Linked DNA regions of Homo sapiens: region 1 is linked to region 2. The links come from fine-mapping of genetic effects on gene expression. Tissue or cell type: esophagus mucosa. Region 2 holds a variant in brackets; the other region holds the start of a gene. All regions are shown on one strand. Distances are from middle to middle.

Region 1 (9,508 bases), 28 kb after region 2:
TGGTGCTTAGCTGGGTCCACATTTGCTCACATCAGGGGAGTTATTTAGCTGGACAGAAAGCAGAAGCCAGCAAGTCCTTGCTTTCCAAGAGCCTAGGCCCCTAGGAGAACTTGGAGGGTTTGGGGGAATGGTGTCAGGGTCATGGGAAGAAGGGTGTCTGGGAGGAGCAGGGGAGCCGAGGAGGGGCTTCCCCAGATGAGGAGCGGCGATTTCCTGGTGCTGAGGGGGTTGAAGGAGAGTGAGACAGAGGCAGAGACAGAGAGAACTAGCGATGTGGCCCCAAGTCGCTCACGACCCTGAATGCTGCAGGGTGTGTGTGGTGGGGCCAGGGCTCTGCAGCCTTGCAAAGCGTTCCCCTGTGCCAAGGTGGCTCCAAGGGGCTGCTCAGGCAAAACACAGACTCAGCTGTGGGAACTGATGCCCAGAGGGTCTCCCATCGCACGGGCGCACACACGCAGGCATGCACGCGTGCACAAACTGCCCGGTGGTGTGGGAGGCCATATCAGAATGAAGTTGAGTTCTAGAACATAAAGCCAGTGTTACTTCTTGCACACCAGGGTCTGGCCCCCGCCAACCTGAGTAGCTCCGTCTGGTACCATCCTCTGACTCACCCGCCTTGTTTCTTACCAATCCTCTGGACCGCCTGAGATGGTTGCGGGGCTCAGCTTACCCATCACCTCTGCAGAGCACCGTCCTGCCTGCTCTATTTCAGTGGATTTCCCCGCAACCCTCGTTTTCTCTGTCCTGCCCTTCCCTTTTCCTCACAGCACCCCAACATGTGTCACTGTATTGTTTTGGGTGTGTTTATTTACTCTCTGCTCTGTGGGGGCAGGAAGGTCTCTTCGTTTACTGCTGCATGCTTATGACCAGCGGGTAGCAGGTGCTCAGTAGAGGTGTCGAGTTAATTAAAGAGGAAGAGGTGCGTGGGGCCTCGGAGGCAGAGCTGTTTCTGGCTGATGGGTGTGCAGGGTTGGACTGTGCCGTGTGTCATTTGATGGCCATTAATTCAACAAGGAACCAGCCAGTGCTTTCTCCAAGCGAGATGCTGTGTGGAGTTCCAGAGGGTAGACACAGGGGAAGACTGGACCCTCCTCTGAGGACTAACGAGACTGAGCAGGCAGAGGCTTGCAGAGGCCATGTGGGTGCGGGCAAGAGAGGCCCTGCTCCAGAGAGGGAGGGGCTCAGGGAGCACCTTGGAGGAGGTGACAGTTGCGCTGGACTGTGATGGAGGCCAGGCACCGGCCAAGCAGAGGTGGCGGGGGAGACACAGGAGCTGGCTGAGCTGGAGGCAGGTCCCATGTGTGATGCGGGGACTGGGCAAAGGAACTCACACTTTCCAGCACATACCACATGTCAGGTGGGCACACGGCCTGGCTCATTTAGTCTGGGTGACAGCGCAGGTGTTACTATCCCCATTATACAGTCTGGGAAGTGGAGGTTGGCCAAGGTCACAGAAGTCATGGGAAGGGGAAGGGCTGGGTCTGCTGAGCTGTGCCGCTGCCAGACAGCACCTCCCTACCCGGAGCCGGGCTTCTGAAGGGAGGCCCTGAGAGTGCAGGTGGCTCGGCATTAAGGACGCCTTGCTCACCCAAGGCAGTTACGCACACAGCACCGTGCCCGGCACCACGCCAGGCCCGGGACAGCCCGCAGTAAGAGCTGAGTGGGCACAGGCTAGGGGGCTGCTGGGCTCCCTGCGGGCAAGAGCAGACTTGGGGCAGCTCTCTGTGTCCCTGGAGCTCCTGTCCCTGGGGAATTTGAGAGAGCCTTAGGGCGTTCTTCTGGCTGGGACTCCAGGACTGCTCTGTGGACAGGGCTGATGGCCAGCTCAGGCCAGGCCCAGCAAGGGCAGCCTGGAGAGCTGACTTCCAGCGCAGGCTGTCCTCTCTCCTCCCACTGCACCCTCTTACCTTGATCGTACACTTCGCCCACCACCGGCTTCAGGCCGTGCTCCTTTCCCGCCTCATAGATGGCTCCTCCATCCAGAGTGATGGCGTCAGCCTCCTGGGCCTGCAAGGAAATGTGGCTCAGCCAAGCCTGGCCCAGCTGGCCTGCTCAGCAAAGAACTCGGGACACCTACCAGATGGCCTGGGGCCCCACCCCAAGCCCCAGAGGGCTGTGCTGTCCTTCTCATCTGTCCCAGGAGCCCAACCAGAGCCCAGGGCTCTCCCCCTTTCCCAGGCCAGGGATTCACCTTGTTTTCCTAATAATGTTAAAAAAAAAATACTAATCATTGATTTTGCAGGACTCAGATATCATAGTAAAAAAATCAGATAGCAGAAAACGGTGCGCAGTGACAAGTGAGTCTCCCTCGCTTTCTGTCCCTCCACCCTGCGCCTCTACTGCTACCCTAGGTTTTCTAGCTTTTTTTCTCTAAGGTGGTCTGTGCTTGGGGTTTCTGCCCTCACATGGAGCCTGACCCACAGCCTTGGCCCCAGTGTGGGCCTGTGATTGGATTAGGTCTTGGGGGCATATGGGGGGCAGAGCTGGAATGAAAAGCCAGCTTTCTTTGCACCCACCCAGGAGGGACGCCACTCTCTGGTGGTGCCTCGGAGGATTGTCAGTGTCATTTAGCAGTTCTCAGCAGACCTGCTCTCCTACCCCATGCTCACCCACCTGGGAGTCCAGCCCCTGCTCCTCCTTCCCCAGAAACCACACAAGCCCCATTCTGGAGAGCCCCATGGCAAGATGAGCAAGTAACCGCCTGCGGCCACTGAGGGGCCGCCACCATCTGGGCCCCCTTGGCAGGGGCCTTGTGGAAGGGAAGCCTCTCAGGTGCCTTTCTTTGCTGGCGCCCTCTGAGCAGCGGGTCCTCCTGAGGCTCCCACCTCCTGGCCTGGGCCCGGCGGGAGGCAAGCTGGCCTCGTGGCCAGGGAGACTCGGGAGATCCTATCGGCCGGGCCTGGCAGGGCGAGGTCGGCTCCTTTCCTGGTGAATGGGGCTGTTGTGTGCTCCCTCCTGAGTCACAGCCCTCTTGTCTGGCAGGGTGGAAGGGAGAGGACTCACCGCGATGAGCTGGACGCAGTGGTCGGCGGAGGTGCCCCGGACGCAGAGGAGGGAGGGCTGGATGCCCGCTTCCCGGAAGGCCTCGCTCATGTTGCCGCACTTGTGCTGCTCTGGGTCCGAGGTGGCGCACCACCGCACCTCCATGCCACCGAGCACTGCGGGCAGGGGACCGTGAGGCCCGGCTCCCCCGCCCTGCCCAGCCCCGGCCCACCATGGAGGGTGGCTCCAGCAGTTCTGTGTGAGCCCATTCGCCTGGACAGCCAGTCCTCTAGGGCAGCCCTGCCCTCCCACAGGGAGGCACTAGGCGCAGAGACAGGGGAAGGGCTGGTATTCCTGTGCTCAGGGCCTCTCTGACCAGGAGCACGGCTGCTGGCAAATGGAATGGCTCAGAACCCGGCCCTTTATGGAGGAATGGGAGGGTCTACAGGTCGCTTCTCAGCTACCCCCACCTGGTGGGAGCACTGGCTAGGGAGTCTCGGCAGGCCCTGGAAGTGGAAGCTTCTTCCCCTCTCCAGGCCTCCCGAAGAGGGTGCTCGTGTAGGTTCCCTCACCCAGCAGTGTCCCTGGGCCTTCCTCATGAACTGGGACGGGAGAGTGAGGTGAGGGGGCTGTGGGTGGGCTGCCCTCCAGGAGCCCTGTCCCCTCGGGGAGTGTCTGCGATGATGCTGGCTGCAAAGCCACCCTCGGTGGGCACAGTGCCAGGCCCTGCCAAGGGAAGACGGCAGGCACAGAGGGGAGGCTGAGGACCCATCAGGGTAGGTTCAAGCCTCTCTGAGCCTGCTTCATCTTCTGAGAGAGCAGATAAAAACCCCACCTTCTGTGTTGAAAGTAAACCCCCTTGTAGAGAGCCTGAGACACCCACATCCTCAGTGGACTTCTGCTTATGCCTCAGGATCTGACCGGGTCAGAGTCCCCGAGAGCTCCCAGGCTAGGGGCCCAGAGGAAGGGGTGCTGGAGCCCCTTGGGGCCGATGACTTTCAGGCCTGAGCTCCTCTGCCATTCACCCTGCCCCAGCCAGCACTGCCAGAGGCCTGTGCAGGAGGGAGGGAAACGCATGACTCCGCCCGAAACCAGGTCACCCTCCCGTGGCAGCCCCACCAGCCCAAGGGCCGAGACTGAAGCTTCCGCCACAGCCCTCCCCTCCCCACTCCTGGCGGAGGCCTGGGAAGTCGAACTGCCCTCCCCTCCGCAGCGCTCCAAGCCCCCCACCACCCAGGCGGGAAACTGCAAAGTTCAGACGGGGCGGGGGTGGCGGTGGCTTCATCGTTTGCATTGATGAGTGCGTCGCCTGCGGCCACAGCGGTGCCACGAACTCCATCCCCTCGGCGGTCGCCGCCCGCGATCCCCGCGAGCCGCTCCCCGAGGTCCCGCCTCCCGTCCCACCATCCCGGGCCCTGACTCCCCGGGGCGCCGACGCGAGGGGACCCGGCCTCCGTCTCCACCTCCATCCCTGCATGTGCCAGAAACCCCCGGGCGGACTCCCGCGCCTGCCGGTCAGTCCCTCTGAATCTTCTCCCGCGGGGGCTCGGGAGAAAGAGCTGCTCCGAGCCCCCAAAGTCTTCCTGAGTTCCTGCGCCCGTCGGGAGGGGCCGCCCTCCGGGAGCTCCTCTCCACACCCCGAGGCCTCCCCACCACGCCTCAGCCCGCGCTTCTCCTTGGAGCGTCGGAAGCCTCGGGTGTTCGAGGCCGCCTCCTCCAAGAAGCCTTCCAGACTTCCCCGTCTGCGCTTCAGTGCTAGTTCCCTCCGCCGTCCTCACTCGACCCCGAGCCCCTGCCTCCCCCGTCTCACTGCCCCGGAGCCGCAGGCTCAGGCACATTTCCAGCCCCGGGACCTGCTCAGCCGGGCCGCGGCGCCCCGGGACCCCCGCCCGCCTTTGGCTCTCACAGCGGGGCCTCACCGGTGCGCAGAGCCAGGAGCAGCCACAGAGCCCCGCTCGGACCCCGCATGGCGCCGTCGGGGCTGGCTGGGGCCGGGCTGGGGCTGGGTCCGGGTCCGAGGAGGTCCGCAGCAGCCGGGCTTCCTCCCTGCTCCCCCTCGCGCTGGCCCGAGCTCCTTAAGTGCGGCCGCGAGTTCCCGGGCGGAATCCACGCCCCTGGGGCGCAGGTCACCTCCCGCCGACCCCGGACCCCGCCCCTGGGCGGCCCCGGCGCGCCCCCTGCTGGAGGCCTCCCGCTCGGGCCCGGGCGCCGCTGCTCGGGGCTCTCGCCTCAGCCTCCTACCCCGCGTTCCAGGGTATCCTCCCCTCCTCGCGCCCTAGAAAGACTCCAGATACCGTGTCTAACTGGAGAGAGAAAAGCTCAGACGTGGAAGGAAGGAGAGGTCAGAATCCCAGAGTCGGGGCTGGAGGGCAGCTGGAGGATGATCTCATTCACGCAGCAGCTCCCTCCCAGCACAGCTGCACAGAGGATCTGGGATACGGGGGAGCCCAGGCCGAGCGCCCTGGCGAGGGGGGAGCCGGGCAGGGGCATCTCGGCCACAGCTGCACAGAGGATCTGGGATACGGGGGAGCCCAGGCCGAGCGCCCTGGCGAGGGGGGAGCCGGGCAGGGGCATCTCGGCCACAGCTGCACAGAGGATCTGGGATACGGGGGAGCCCAGGCCGAGCGCCCTGGCGAGGGGGGAGCCGGGCAGGGGCATCTCGGCCACAGCTGCACAGAGGATCTGGGATACGGGGGAGCCCAGGCCGAGCGCCCTGGCGAGGGGGGAGCCGGGCAGGGGCATCTCGGCCTAGCCGACTGCCTCTCCTCGGGCCTAGAGACGGGAGGTGACTTGCCCGAGTCAGGCATCCAGTCAGTGGCAGAGCCAGCTGATTGGAAGGTGAGAAGAGGACCAGAGAGGAATTGGAGGAAGCGGAAAAGGAGAAACAGGCGGAGAAGGGGAGGAAGAGAGTGAAGAAGGTGAGGGAGGAAAGGGTGGGTTGACCGTATTTCTAGGACAGTGGTTCTCAGTGTGGTCCCTAGGCCAGCAACGTGAGCATCACCCTGGAACTTGCTGGAAATGCAAGTGCTCAGGCCCCACCTCCGACCCACTGGATCGACAGCTCTGGGGGCGGGGCCCACAATCTGTTTTTATTTCGGGGCACAGCAAATGTTGAGAACCACTGTCGCAGGCGGGCAAAAGCGGCACTCCCCATGTGGTTGGGGATGCGGGGAATGAACTGAAGACATTGTTAGTCACCTGCCTCCATTTAGGCCTCACCTTTATGTCATCAGCCCCTCTGAGACTCAGAAATGATGTCTCTCTCTGACATGGGTAAGTACAACAGTGAGAGAGAAGACATCCCTCTGAGTTTGTCTGTCCTTGAGCTTGCTCTGCGCCCTGGGGAAGGAAGGCCTCCCTCCTATGGGGCCATGAAGCTACTGCTTATCACACACTGGATCAGGGGAAGGAACATGGGCTGGGCTTCAGGAGACTCGAGCTCTACTTTTTAAAAACCAGCGACTTACAGACCCTGGGCGAGTTCGTCGCCCTCTCTGGGCTTGTTCCCCACATGTAAAAGGTAGGTCATGATGGCCGTGACGTGCCATACTTTCCGTCTCCTGTCTGCTCTGGAGGACTTGTGCTGTGGAAGCTGTTTCTCCATCCCCCCAGATGGATCCCTTCTTCCTAGTTTGCACAAAGGTGCCGAATGGACTAGCAGGCAGCCTTGCTAGAGGGGCTGATGGCTTGTCCTAAGAAGATGGAATAAATAGAAGAGTCCTTAACAAGCCTCGTTCTCCTGACCACGAGGATAGAAAGGCTCAGTTGGCACACTCCAGGAGCCACCAGATGACTGGCAGGATCTGTTTGATGACTAAGTCCTTCCTTTGGCAAAACTCCACGTGACGCTGATAGGGAGTGAGAACAACCATAACCTAAGAGGTTTGCTGGGCTCTTTCACAATGAAGTTCTTCCCTTATCTCTTGGGTGTCATTCAGCTGTGACTCATCAGTGAACTTGCTGCCTCTGGGTTCTCAGGGATTCTACATCGGGCCCGTTGGCCCAGGGTTGGCATGAACGCGCATCACCTTTGTGGAATGGGGAAGTCTGCCTCAGCTTGAGCCAGGATTCTGCCATTTCTGGGGTCCGGACATACTTGGGTGTGCCAGAGAAATGGGTGGGATGTAATGAGAGAGTAATAAGCCAGTAGTTTAACCCACAAACAGCCTTCTGGAGGAGCAGAAGCTGAGGTTAGTTTGGTCCCCATTCTAGACTCATATTGAGATTAGAGGGAGAGCATACAGACTAAAGGAACTGGTTTCACTGACACTTCGATCAGATTCTGGGGCCTAAGCAGCTCTGCCTGAGTCTCCCTGACCCTACCCCATAATATGAAATAAAAAGAGCTCTTCTCCACTCTTGCCAAAGACACAGCTCTGGCTCTCCAAGGATTCAGAGTGCCCAGAAGCATTGAGCTTGCTTGTCAGGGAATCGAGGAACAGTACATCCCATGGAGGGAATACACTACAGGCAGCCTCAGAAAGTGGGGGCCTTTGACAGGAGACTGAGAAGGTCCATCAGCAGGTAGTGGCTAATGAGCCAGCAAAGGGTGAAATCCTTTACCCAAAACGAAGTAAAATATTGTACTTAGGAAAAAATATTTTTCAACAAATCATAATTTCTGTCTGTCTATTTCTATGGCCCGCAATGTCTTTAAGAACAAGCCAAATAGTTTTTATTCTGGGGAACCCTTGGAAGGCTGGTGTGCCCTGAGAAAGTTTGGGTGTGAGCACCTGCAGTAGTGTGATGTCAGAGGATGTTACGCTCTTGCTGACTGGTTGGGGTGTCAGCACCTGCAGTCGTGTGATGTCAGAAGATTTTACACTCTTGCTGACTGGTTGTGGTGTGAGCACCTGCAGTAGTGTGATGTCAGAGGATGTTACCCTCTTGCTGACTTGTTGGGGTGTGAGCACCTGAAGTAGTGTGATGTCAGAGGATGTTACACTCTTGCTGATGGGTTGGGGTGTGAGCACCTGCAGTCGTGTGATGTCAGAAGATTTTACACTCTTGCTGACTGGTTGGGGTGTCAGCACCTGCAGTAGTGTGATGTCAGAGGATGTTACACTCTTGCTGACTGGTTGGGACATGAGCACCTGCAGTAGTGTGATGTCAGAGGATGTTACACTCTTGCTGATGGGTTGGGTGTGAGCACCTGAAGTAGTGTGATGTCAGAAGATTTTACACTCTTGCTGACTGGTTGGGGTGTGAGCACCTGCAGTAGTGTGATGTCAGAGGATGTTACCTCTCTTGCTGACTGGTTGGGGTGTGAGCACCTGCAGTCGTGTGATGTCAGAAGATTTTACACTCTTGCTGACTGGTTGGGGTGTGAGCACCTGCAGTAGTGTGATGTCAGAGGATGTTACACTCTTGCTGACTGGTTACTGTGTGAGCACCTGCTGTAGTGTGATGTCAGAGGATGTTACACTCTTGCTGACGGGTTGGGGTGTCAGCATCTGCAGTAGTGTGATGTCAGAGGATGTTACCCTCTTGCTGACTTGTTGGGGTGTGAGCACCTGCAGTAGTGTGATGTCAGAGGATGTTACACTCTTGCTGATGGGTTGGGGTGTGAGCATCTGCAGTAGTGTGATGTCACAGGATGTTACGCTCTTGCTGACTGGTTGGGACGTTAGCACCTGCAGTAGTGTGATGTCACAGGATGTTACACTCTTGCTGACTGGTTGGGGTGTGAGCACCTGCAGTAGTGTGATGTCAGAGGATGTTACACTCTTGCTGACTGGTTTGGGTGTGAGCACCTGCAGTAGTGTGATGTCAGAGGATGTTACACTCTTGCTGACGGGTTGGCGTGTGAGCACCTGCAGTAGTGTGATGTCAGAGGATGTTACTCTCTTGCTGACTGGTTTGGGTGTGAGCACCTGCAGTAGTGTGATGTCAGAGGATGTTACACTCTTGCCAACTGGTTGGGGTGTGAGCATCTGCAGTAGTGTGATGTCAGAGGATGTTACACTCTTGCCAACTGGTTGGGGTGTGAGCATCTGCAGTAGTGTGATGTCAGAGGATGTTACTCTCTTGCTGACTGGTTACTGTGTGAGCACCTGCAGTAGTGTGATGTCAGAGGATGTTACACTCTTGCTGACTGGTTGGGTGTGAGCACCTGCAGTCGTGTGATGTCAGAAGATTTTACACTCTTGCTGACTGGTTGTGGTGTGAGCACCTGCAGTAGTGTGATGTCAGAGCATGTTACACTCTTGCTGACTGGTTGGGTGTGAGCACCTGCAGTCGTGTGATGTCAGAGGATGTTACACTCTTGCTGACTGGTTGGGGTGAGTACCTGCAGTAGTGTGATGTCAGAGGATGTTACACTCTTGCTGACTGGTTGGGACATGAGCACCTGCAGTAGTGTGATGTCAGAGGATGTTACGCTCTTGCTGGCTGGTTGGGGTGTGAGCACCTGCAGTGGTGTGATGTCAGAGGATGTTACTCTCCTGCTGACGGGATGGGATGTGAGCACCTGCAGTAGTGTGATGTCAGAGGATGTTACGCTCTTGCTGACTGGTTGGGGTGTGAG
Region 2 (10,554 bases):
ATATTGCAGACCCCTCAAATCCTGTGCTTCAAGGGTTCCTTTTGGCTGAACACTGAGAAGACCCCCAACCCCAGGTGTCACCTGTTCACAAGGTGACTTCCTGCCCCATCCCTGAAACCCTCCACTCATGCCCATCTCGGGAACTTTCAGCTGGGACCAGCTCTGGTTCTTGAATCTGAGCTACAGAAGGGCCTAAGGAGACCCTGGAGGCCTTCTGGGTCACCCCACAGATGAAGGAACAGGGCCCACAGAGCGGCCGTGACTTTCCCTGAGCCACACAAAGCCAAGACAAGAGCCTGGGAGCCCCAAGGGCCCATCTCGGGCTCTTTCCACTGTTACCACTTATATCAATTCAGAATGCAGCCAGCTGAAACAAGAGAAGACAGGAATCAGCTGTCAGGGAGTCTAGACTGTTCCAGGCCTGGGTGCTGCCACCTGAGCCGAACGCTTTTGTCTCTTTGCTCTGCTGTCCTGACCATGCGGTCCTTTTCCTTGTGCTTCTTGCTCCATTTTCCAGCGATCCTGTCCACTTTCCGGGCAGGAAGAGGGAGACGGGCTCCGGGGCAATGGGCTGTGCTAGCTGTTTGTTCCTCCTAAACAGCTGCCCTGAAACTTCTCAGGTTTCTTCAGCCAGAACCGAGTTGCCTGGGCACGCAGGAGTGAGTATTTGTACTTGGGCACGCTGCCACCCGAACAAAACTGGAGTCTGCTAGACAGGAAGAAGGGGAGAAGACCAGCAGCAGAGTCTGCCACAAGTTGTTGGATGGGGATCTTGGCTAAGGATGCCCTGCCCGGTAAACCACCAGGCCCTTCTCTTCAACCTCCAGCGACCCAAAGACTGACTTCAGTAGAGCAGATAACATTTGTTTTTTCTGTAGAGTTGGAGGTTTCCAGGGACATCAGAAGCTAGGAAGGAGGAAGGGGGGTATTCCGACCACGCACCACCTTCACATGCTGATCTCTGAGTTCTCTCCTGTTCTCGAGGGCCCTGCTCGGAATTGTGAGGGTGGGGAGTGCAGGGCCAGAGGGACGGGGGAGCCGCATGCTGGGAAAGGGTGAAGTCAGAATGCCATTCTACCGACAGCCTGCGTGCTCGGAGACCCGGGCCAGGCGCTGAGGCACCTTCCCGCACATTCCACCCCTCCACATGGAGCCCACGGGGGCCACGGACACAGACCTGGCTTGTCTTCCAGGCTGGGCCCAACTTCCTCCATGAAGTTCCCTGGTTAGGGGGAACCACTCACCCTTCCCACCCAAGCCCTGGACACCTTGGGGCAGGCACCTGTTAATGCGCTCATGGGGTGTGAGCTCACATTGCCCTGAACAGTGTTCTTCAAAGTGAGGTGGCTTGACCGGCAGCATCAGACCACCTGAGAACCTGCCAGGCTGGGGTGCAATGGTGCAATCATAGCTCAGAGCTCACTGCAATCTCAAACTCCTGGGCCCAACCAATCCTCCCCTGTCAGCCTCCCGAGTAGCTGGGATCACAGGCAAACACCACCACGCCTGGCTAATTAAAAACACTTTTGTGTCTGTGTGTGTGTGTGTGTGTGTGTGTAGAGGTTGGGCCTATGTTGCCCAGGCTGGTCTTGAACTACTGGCCTCAAGCAATCCTCACATCTCAGCTTCCCAAAGTTCTGGGATTACAGGCGTGAACCACCATGCCTGGCCAATATATACATTTTTAGAGATGGGAGTCTCACTATGTTGCCCAGGCTGGCCTCAACTCCTGGGCTCAAGCAATCCTCCTGCCTCAACCTCCAAGTAGCTGGGACTACAGGCATACACCATTGCACCCAGCTTCGCAGTCTATGTTTTAATAAACCCTCAGGTGATCCTCACATACGCTCAAGGCGAGAAGCTTTGACGTATATGACTCTCCGCTGTGAAACCCAGCTTCTGGCTTGTTAGCACCAACGCAGAGGCAGCTGAGAAAGGCAGAAACAAAAAGAGCCCACCCGGCCCCTCTCACTTCAGCACAGGCAACAACCCCGTGAAGACTCAGATGTGTTTTAGTCTAAGAATTACTGTTAGAGCTAGAAATCGTCGAGGCCCCATACCCGCTTCTCAGTTTATAGATTTGGGAACTGAGATGGGGAGAGGAGAAAGTATTGGCCCAGGGTGAATACCAAAGTGGAATGAGAATTCAAGTTTCCTGAATCTTAGGTGAGTGAGCTGGTTTTTATTCCACAAAATTGGAATATCTTTTTTTTTGAGGCAGGGTCTGGTCTGGAGTGCAGTGGCACCATCACGGCTCACCGGAACCTCCACCTCCCAGGCACAAGTGATCCTCCCACCTCAGCCTCCCAAGTAGCTGGAGGTACAGGTGTGGGCCACCACACTGGGCTAATTTTTTTAAAAATTGTTTGTAGAGATGGGGTCTCACTATGTTGCCCAGACTGGTCTTAAATTCCTGGGCTCAAGCGATTCTTCCACCTCAGCCTCCCAAAGGGCTGGGTTGACAGCGGTGAGCCACCACACCCAGCCTAATTAATATATCTTTTTAAAAAATTGTAGCATTTATACCTATTGTAAATGTTGTGTGAATCTTTTTCAAGAATGTTGTCCTGAGGAACACATCCTCATTGTAAACAGTCAAGAACACCTGGGGAGGAGTCTGAAGCTGGGGGTGACGGCTTGTGCCGTGTGGGCCACAAGGCCCTGTCTATCCTGTCACTGTCCCTCCTGCACAGCAGTGTTCTTCTACCACACCACCTCGGTGGCCTCTCCAAATGAGACCAAGGGGGGCAGGGCTAGTAGGCCGTGTACTTACTTCTTTGTACCTTCCAGAGCGCTGAGCACAGGGCTGTGCACACAGCAGGCTGGCCGACCCCAAGCACTTGTGGGGCCTAGGACAAGAGTACCAACAGAGGCCCGCCTACCATGTGGCTCCACATTAAATGTTACAAATCAAGCTAACAAGCTATTAAAGAGAATGTGTCCTGTCCTCCTACTTTGACAAACAAACCTTTATAAAGACTCAGCAGCCTAGAATAGGAGCTGCGGACAGAACAGGCTTCCCCGCCATAGCCCACCCGCTCTCTTCCCATCCAGGCTGCAACCCACGCTTCGAGGGCCTTGCGCATTGCAGAGGACACGGCAGCCTGCTCATCACGCTCAACTACACCTCCTGCGAGAGCTTTGGCCACCTTGGGAGGCAGGATCTAGGTAAGGGGCCCTCCAGACCCTGGAAGCTGGCTCAGGGCTGTTTGAGGTATAAAGTCCAGGATCCCAGGTATCTGGAACATGGTGTGAAAAATGGGCTCTGGGGCCAGGTGCGGTGGCTCATGCCTGTAATCCCTTTGGGAGGCCTTTGGGAGGCCGAGGTGGGCGGATCACGAGGTCAGGAGTTCGAGACCATCCTGGCCAACATGGTGAAACCCCATCTCTATGAAAAATACAAAGAGTAGCCATGTGTGGTGGTGGGCGCTTGTATTTCCAGCTACTTGAGAGGCTGAGGCAGGAGAATCACTTGAACCCGGAAGGCGGAGGTTGCAGTGAGCTAAGATTGTGCCACTGAACTCCAGCTTGGGCAACAGAGCAAGACTCCGTTTCAAAAAAAGAAAAGATGACCCCTGAGTGAACGCATCCCTTTTCCCTGTGATTGCTCCCTCTGTGGGTGGGGTGTGGGGTGTGGTCTGGGGGAGGCCTCTGAAGGCTTGCTTCTCAAAGTGTGGTCCCTGGACCACCAGCACAGGCACCACCTGGGAGCTGGTCTGAACTGCAGACTCTCAGTCTCATGCTGGCCCTTCTGAACCAGAGTCTACATTTTAACAAGATCCCCAGGCAGTTAATGTGCACATCAAGGTCTGAAAAGCACTGCTTGAAAGCACAAAACCGAGGACTAGAATCCCTCTTGCCTAGGTCTAGGGGTGGTACTGACAAGTAGGTATCAGTAAGTATTTGCTCAACAAATGGCCAATAGCCCTACAACAGGCCTGGTAGCCATGGGGGTGCTGGGGCATGGCTGCCTGACTCACAAGGATTTCATTTCCTTTTTCTGGGGCCTCGGTGGCCATGTGTCCGCTATACACCCTGCTTCTGGCCTGTGCTGACTGGTCCAGTGGTAGATGCCTGACGCACACTGGGCCAATCAGATGATCTCTCCCAGGAATTCCAAATTGAAGACAAGAAAACAGGCTCTGGAGTAATAGCAGTAGTGACAGTGAACATCCTTCCTGCACCCACCGTGTGCCAAGCACTGTGCTGAGTGTTTTGTGTCTTAGACTCTATGCCATGTGCCAAGCACTGTGCTGAGTGTTTTGTGTCTTAGACTCTATGCCGTGTGCCAAGCACTGTGCTGAGTGTTTTGTGTCTTAGACTCTATGCCGTGTGCCAAGCACTGTGCTGAGTGTTTTGTGTCTTAGACTCTATGCCGTGTGCCAAGCACTGTGCTGAGTGTTTTGTGTCTTAGACTCTATGCCGTGTGCCAAGCACTGTGCAGTGTTTTGTGTCTTAGTCTCTATGCCGTGTGCCAAGCACTGTGCTGAGTGTTTTGCATCTTAGACTGGATCTTCACAACCACCTCACCAAGCTGGTGATCGTACTGTGTGTTTTTCAGATGAGGGGCTAGGGTGCCCAAAGGTTAACTTTCCTTTCCAGAAGTTCAGGGTAGGGAAGTGGTAGCATGAGGCGAGCTGGAGTGACTGTGCAGCTGAGACTCGTCCATGTGATGCAGAGACAAAGTCGGTCAACTCTGGCCATCCAGGTCCCCAGGAATTGACTGGCTTTGTGATAACTGAGCCGACTTCATGGAAAATGGCCTGTGTGCAGTGGTGGGCAAGACCTGGCTCTGGGAGATGGCCACAGCGGCGAGGGGTGGTGGTGTGGGGGCCAAGTGAAGCCATGAGAGAGGGAAGCAGAGAAAACCTCCCCTTCCAGAGGGAGAGCAGAGCACTGATGAAGACCAGCCGGGCCCACCCCCACCTCAGTAGATACCACAGAGCACCCACTGTAGGGTCTCTGGGAGATCCGCTCCCCACGCCCCCCTCCAGTGAGTTAGCAGCGAGCTTGCCAGAGAAAAGATGTGGGCCGCTTATTTTGGAGGTGTGGGGCAGGGGGCAGCAGAGAAGTTTGCACCCTTCTCTGCACCCATCCACAGAAGGGCAGACACCCCAGAGCCTGATGGGGTGGAGGCAGCTGGAATGTGCCAGGGCAGCGGAGGCCCTGCAAGAGCCAGAGAACCAGTCCAGGTCGAAGAAGGGCGCGGGGGGCCTCACTGACTAGAGGATGAGAGTGGTCCCTGACTGGCTCTTGGAGAATGGAATCTGCCCTTCTCGGTGGAGCAGGTAGGCCTTTGAGTGCCTAACAAAACGAAAGAAATCGGCAGCAGAAGTTTCTATCAGGGTCCAAGCCTCTGCATGTGCTGGCTTGTTTGGCTTTATTTTAGAAACCAACCAACATGTTTCATTAGCACTGACACAGCAGGGG[T/C]CCCCTGCTGCCACCTGACAATCCAGCGTCACTTACACTGCACCCACGCAGGCCACACCTTCAATGGCCACGGCACGCTAGCCCAGAGTTAGCCACACAGAAACACACTTCTCACCGCACAAAACTCCCTTTTGAAAAAACCAAGCAATCGTCAGGTCGGAGGAGAATCACTAGCCCCCCACAGCGAGAGGGGACAAAGCTTGGTGGCCGAGGCCCAGGTCCTTGTGGCCCCTCCCGGTGGGGTGAAGGTGCCCGGGACTCCTCGGGGTTGCATGGCTACAGCCGGGGCGCTGCCAGGGCCTCCTCTGCGGCTGAGAGATGGAAGGGATCCTTCCCGACGCCCGCAGGTGGGGGCGAGCCACCGGGAACCGGGCCTGTCACCAGCATCCCCGAGCCCCCGCAGACCGGAATGCAAATGGCTCCGCGCCCACGCGGCTCCCGGTCTGCTGACGAGGGCTGCCTGCTCCCATTTCTTCTCTTCCTCTTCATTTTTTTTAAGGGCTGCCAGTTCTGGAAACTTTTTCTGGCTTCTCAGACAACTGTGGCAAGATGGAGTAGAGAGAGGCCCCGGCCGGGCGCTTTCTGCTGCCTCGCGGAGGGGCGGGCACGGGGAGTGAGGGGTCCCCAGGCCCAGCGGGTGCGGGGCCGGGTGAGGAGACGGAGCTCACCCCCGTTCGGAACCCAGAAGCATGGCGGGTCCCCACGCGCAGCCCTTCAGGGGCCTCGGGAGCCCGCGGCCTGGGTCACCTCCGGCTCCCTTCAGGCGGGGGGCGGCTGCTGCCGCCAGGCTCGGGCGTGGGTGCGGGCGGTGGGCATCCCACGGGGGTAGGGGAGGCGAGAGCCTGAGGAGACTCGGGAGGGGGCCCGTGGACGCGGCTGGCCCGGGATGGAGCTGGCGCGGCCACAGTGGGGGACGAGGCAGGGCACGCGGCGTTCCCCGGGCTCGGCCTCCCTCCCAGCGCACGGGCGGTCGGAGGAACTGGAGCCCCCACCCCGGACACGGTCCCGCGGGCGAAGGCTTCTCCCCGTCGCCCCGGTCCGGCCTCCCTCCCGCCGCCGCCAGCAGAGGCCGCTGTCCCACGCGCCGGGTCCCGTTGGCGCCGGGGCCTCCTGGGACGGCCTGGCCGCGGCCTGCGGGTGTAGGCGCCTCGGCGGCCACCGCGTCCCCAGGGGGCCTCGCGGACGGGGGCGCGGGGCTGCGGGGAGGAGGCGGGCGGGCCCCTCGGGCGACACCGCGGGGCGGGCGGCGGGAAGCCCGGACTCAGCGGTTTCCTGGGCAACCGGCCTCCTCCGGCGCGGCCCGCGCGGCTCCAGGTGGCGGGAGGCGGCGGTTGGCGGGAAGGGCCGCGCGGGCCCGGGGGCGGCGCCTCAGGTAGCAGCGCCAGGTGGCGCCCGTGGGCGGCGGGGCTCCCGGGGAGGCGCCTGCTCCCGCCCACGCCGGGCCCGGCCTTCGCGAGCTTCCTTCTGGATTCCAGCGCGAAGCCGCCGCGGAAACTCCCCGGGCGGGCATCGGAGCTCTGGGGCGGGGCGGCCGGGCTCAGAGGGCGGGCGGGAGCAGGCGGGCGGCGAGGGCGGGCAGCAGCAGCGGGAGCAGGGGCGCCCCGGGCGCCGGGGCCGCTGGGGACGAACGCGGCGGGTCAGGCCCCGAAGCCCGGGCCGCGGTGGCCGCCTCAGGCGCCCGCTCTGGGGTGGGGGTGGGGGCATCTTTCGGGACCGAACTCGCCGCAGCCTCCCTCTTTGTGCTCCTTTCCCCTGCTGCCCTTCCAGATGCGCTCTTTCCAGAAAGGCAGCACACGCATGTCTCTGCCGTGGCCCCAGATCCTCCCCGCGCCGCCGTTTTGAGCGTTCACACTCATTACCCAGGTCCGTCTGGGAGACCCGCCGGGCTCCCGCCCTCCCGGCCCGCAGCCTCCTGGCCAAAATCCTCCCGGGACACCCCACCTGGACTGCTGCGAACGGGCCTCCACCCGCCTCCCCGGACCCGCAGCGCCCCCCGCTCCCTCAGGGTTCTGGGGTGAAGGGGTCTGAATAGCACCAGGGGAGGCGGCAGGGCGGGCCTGTCCTACCTGCGCCCGAGCACTGCTGAGACGACATCCCTTCCAGCGCCGCCACGTAGTCCAGCCCCAGCCAGCCGCGGTAGGTGGTTTTCTCTCCGACAGGCACCGCCCGGACGGTGGCATCCTTGAAAAGCAGGTCTTGGCCATGATAGTTGGAGGAGTCGAACATTTTGAACCCGTTCTTATTGTGGTCGTCTCCAAACAGGTCCTGGAAGCACCGCAGGCAGACGACCTGCTCCTCACTGGGCTCAGGCAGGGTCACCCGCCCAGTGCCGCTAGCTGCAAATTGCTTTACATACAGTGACCCAAAGAGCAAGTCATTTCAGGGCCCCACCACTCTGATTGGAAGTCATAAGCTTGACAACTGATTGGCCTCTGTCACCCAAGCGGGTGTGGGGACACTAGGCCCGCAGGTGCCACTGGAAGAGGCGTTCAGAAGCACTGCGGTGCTCCAGCTCCTGGATGCAGGTCTGAGGCCTGAGATGTCCAGGAAGAAAGACCCAGAAATGAGGGATGGTGTGGGTGGGATTCCTGAGCGTTCTGCTAGGCCTGCTGAGCACTTCTTGGCCTTTTCCATAAGGCTTTCTCACTCTGTCTTACAGATATCTCCCCACAAACCTAAACAATTTCGAGAGGGACTTGTGTTCTGCAACCAGTCACAGAATATCAGGTGAGCTGGGCGTGTCTTCACTGACCCACCCGCCCAGGGATGCTGCACTCCTCTCCACCCTGCTCAGAATCACTAGAATGACCGTTCTGTGGCTACAGCCCTAAAAGAGCTACTAAAAAGACCAGAAGTAGTATGAGAACTTATGAATACGAATATAAATAAAGGACATCTGGAGAACATGCATGAATGTCTATGTAAAGTGTTAAGTACTGATCAAGGAGGAACGAAGGAGTCAGGTGGCTCTCAGTCTTTTTGGAGGGACTCGCAGATCCTCCTGAAGATCTGATGAAAGCTGTCAGCCTTCTCCCCAGAAAAATGCACATCCACCCAGGATTCTTCTCCCACATTACTTCAGAGGACTTAGCAACCCCCTAGGGAAGCCCAGGGACCCAGAGTAAAGCACTCCTGGGATAGAGGGGTTCTGTGGGGAAGATGACAGGAAGGAACATGCGTCAGTTCACAATGTCAAAGTTTAGGAACAGGCCTGGCGAGCCAGCCAGCTCTGCAGTTCTGTGGTGCTGGTGGGTGTGGAGAAGGCAATTTCAGCATAAGTCGGGGGAGGGGGAGTGGTTAGAAACCAGTGGCTCCATTGTGAGACAACCTGGGTTTAAATTCTAGGTATATTTTGAAAGCACAACCAATGGGATCTGCTGATAGATTGGCTGTAGAGCACGAGAGGAAGACCGGAGTCAAAAATGACTCCCGAGGAAATGGAAAAGCTAAAGTTGCTCTTAATTGAAGTGGGGAAGACTGAAGGAGGGACGGGGGTCCAACTTTGGACTTGATCCATTTGAGATGACTGTTAGAAACACAAGTCAAAATGTCAAGTATGTAGTTAAATATGCAAGTTTGGGACTGATGTCTGAAGATGTAAATTTAGAAGCCATCTGTATATAGATGGTATTTGATGACATGGGATTGGATGAGATCAAGGGTAAGCTGTAGACAGGGAAGAGGGCTGAGAACTGAATCCTAGGGCTAACAGGTCAGGGAGATGGGGAGGAAATCAGCAGAGAAGACTGAGGAGTGGCCAGAGAGTGAGAGGACAGCCAGGCAGGGCTGAGGACCTGGGCATCTGCAGGGGAAGGTGTTTCCAGGAGGAGGGAGAGCTGTGGCCAGTGCCACTGAGAGGTCAAGTAAAATGAAGACTGAGAAATGGCCACTGGGTTTAGCAACATGGGTCACTGTGACCTTGACAAGAACAGCTTCAGGGCCCTGGTGGGAGCCTGTCTGGGGTAGTCTCCATCCTTAAGAGGGGCCAGAGGAGAGGACTTGCTAACTCAGTCTCCATCCTTAAGAGAGGCCAGAGGAGAGGACTTGTTAACTCCAGAGCAGACCACTCTTTGGAGGAGTTTTGCTTCGAAAGGGAGCAGGATTGGCCGGGCACAGTGGCTCATGCCTGTAATCCCAGCACTTTGGGAGGCCGAGGTGGGCGGATCACGAGGTCAGGAGATCGAGACCATCCTGGCTAACACGGTGAAACCCCTTCTCTACTAAAAAATAGAAAAAATTAGCCAGGCATGGTGGCGGGTGCCTGTAGTCCCAGCTACTCAGGAGGCTGAGGTGGGAGAATGGCGTGAACCCGGGAGGCGGAGCTTGCAGTGAGCCGAGATAGTGCCACTGCACTCCAGCCTGGGGCGACAGAGTAAGACTCCGTCTCAAAAAAAAAAGAAAAAAAGGGAGCAGGATTACAGCTGCAAGAGGATGGATGTGAGACCAAGAGGTTAGTTTGTTCTTTAAGGATGGCAGAAGTCACAGCATGTTTCATGTTGGTGAAAATGGTCCGACTGAGAAGGGAAAATCAACGATGCAGGAGGCAGAGGGGACAGTTTCTGGAGGGATGTCCTTGCGTAAGTGAAAATCACAGAATTTCCCCCGGGCTTCCTCAATTTCTCTAGAGGTCTGCTCCAGGTAGACTGAGGCCTCCCAGGGGCTCAGCTTACCTCTGCTGCACACCCCTCAATGAGGTAGCCCCACCCTGGCTCACCTGGGCCTTGTCCAGCAGTCCATACACGGTGAAGATGTTGGTGTCGGGCCGGACCATCACGGCGTGGGGTGGTATCTGTGCCAGGTTGCAGGCTGCAAACTGGGACACCTCGGCTCGGGCCCCGTTGGGGCACAGCAGTTCATAGTCCTCTGACCTGAGCTCAGCAGCCCAGGGCTCGGAATTGTGGCCTGAGGGGGGTAAAGCAGTGTGTGTGGGGACGTTCCGGGAGTGGAGAGAAGTGTAAAGAGAAGCTGCTATCCTGGGACCCCAAGGCCTTCACCACAGGGAGGTGGCAACATCTGGCCAGCTCCCCAACCCTCTCCATTCTCCACGTGCTCTGCTGTGTTACCGGGGTGAAAGAACCCAGCTGTGTTCATGCCATTAGCAGGAGCTGCCATTAATTAGCAGGG

The links. PIP is the estimated chance that this variant, and not a neighbour inherited with it, causes the effect.
Region 1: it holds the start of MELTF, and the variant in region 2 is fine-mapped to the expression of MELTF in esophagus mucosa (GTEx, PIP above 0.99). The same link has a PIP of 0.9 or more in cerebellum and nasal epithelium.

What each region holds. Positions count from the first base shown.
Region 1 is chr3:197,024,753-197,034,260 of GRCh38, forward strand. MELTF (melanotransferrin) reads right to left here and starts at 5,065. Exons shown (of 16, transcript NM_005929.6): 1 at 4,902-5,065; 2 at 3,004-3,158; 3 at 1,908-2,007. The coding sequence starts at 4,950. RefSeq lists silencers at 4,328-4,507, 4,698-4,747, 4,798-5,287 and enhancers at 4,821-5,457, 5,458-6,094, 6,482-7,681, 6,786-7,080.
Region 2 is chr3:196,996,405-197,006,958 of GRCh38, forward strand. It overlaps MELTF (melanotransferrin), which reads right to left. Exons shown (of 16, transcript NM_005929.6): 14 at 10,145-10,332; 15 at 7,497-7,695; 16 at 5,336-7,047. The coding sequence ends at 6,968. MELTF-AS1 (MELTF antisense RNA 1) reads left to right here and starts at 6,502. Exons shown (of 4, transcript NR_038285.1): 1 at 6,502-6,569; 2 at 7,198-7,566; 3 at 7,693-7,955; 4 at 8,090-8,340. It also overlaps the pseudogene RPSAP30. RefSeq lists silencers at 6,001-6,080, 6,231-7,020, 7,061-7,460. The variant T/C (reference allele first, on the strand shown) is at 5,431.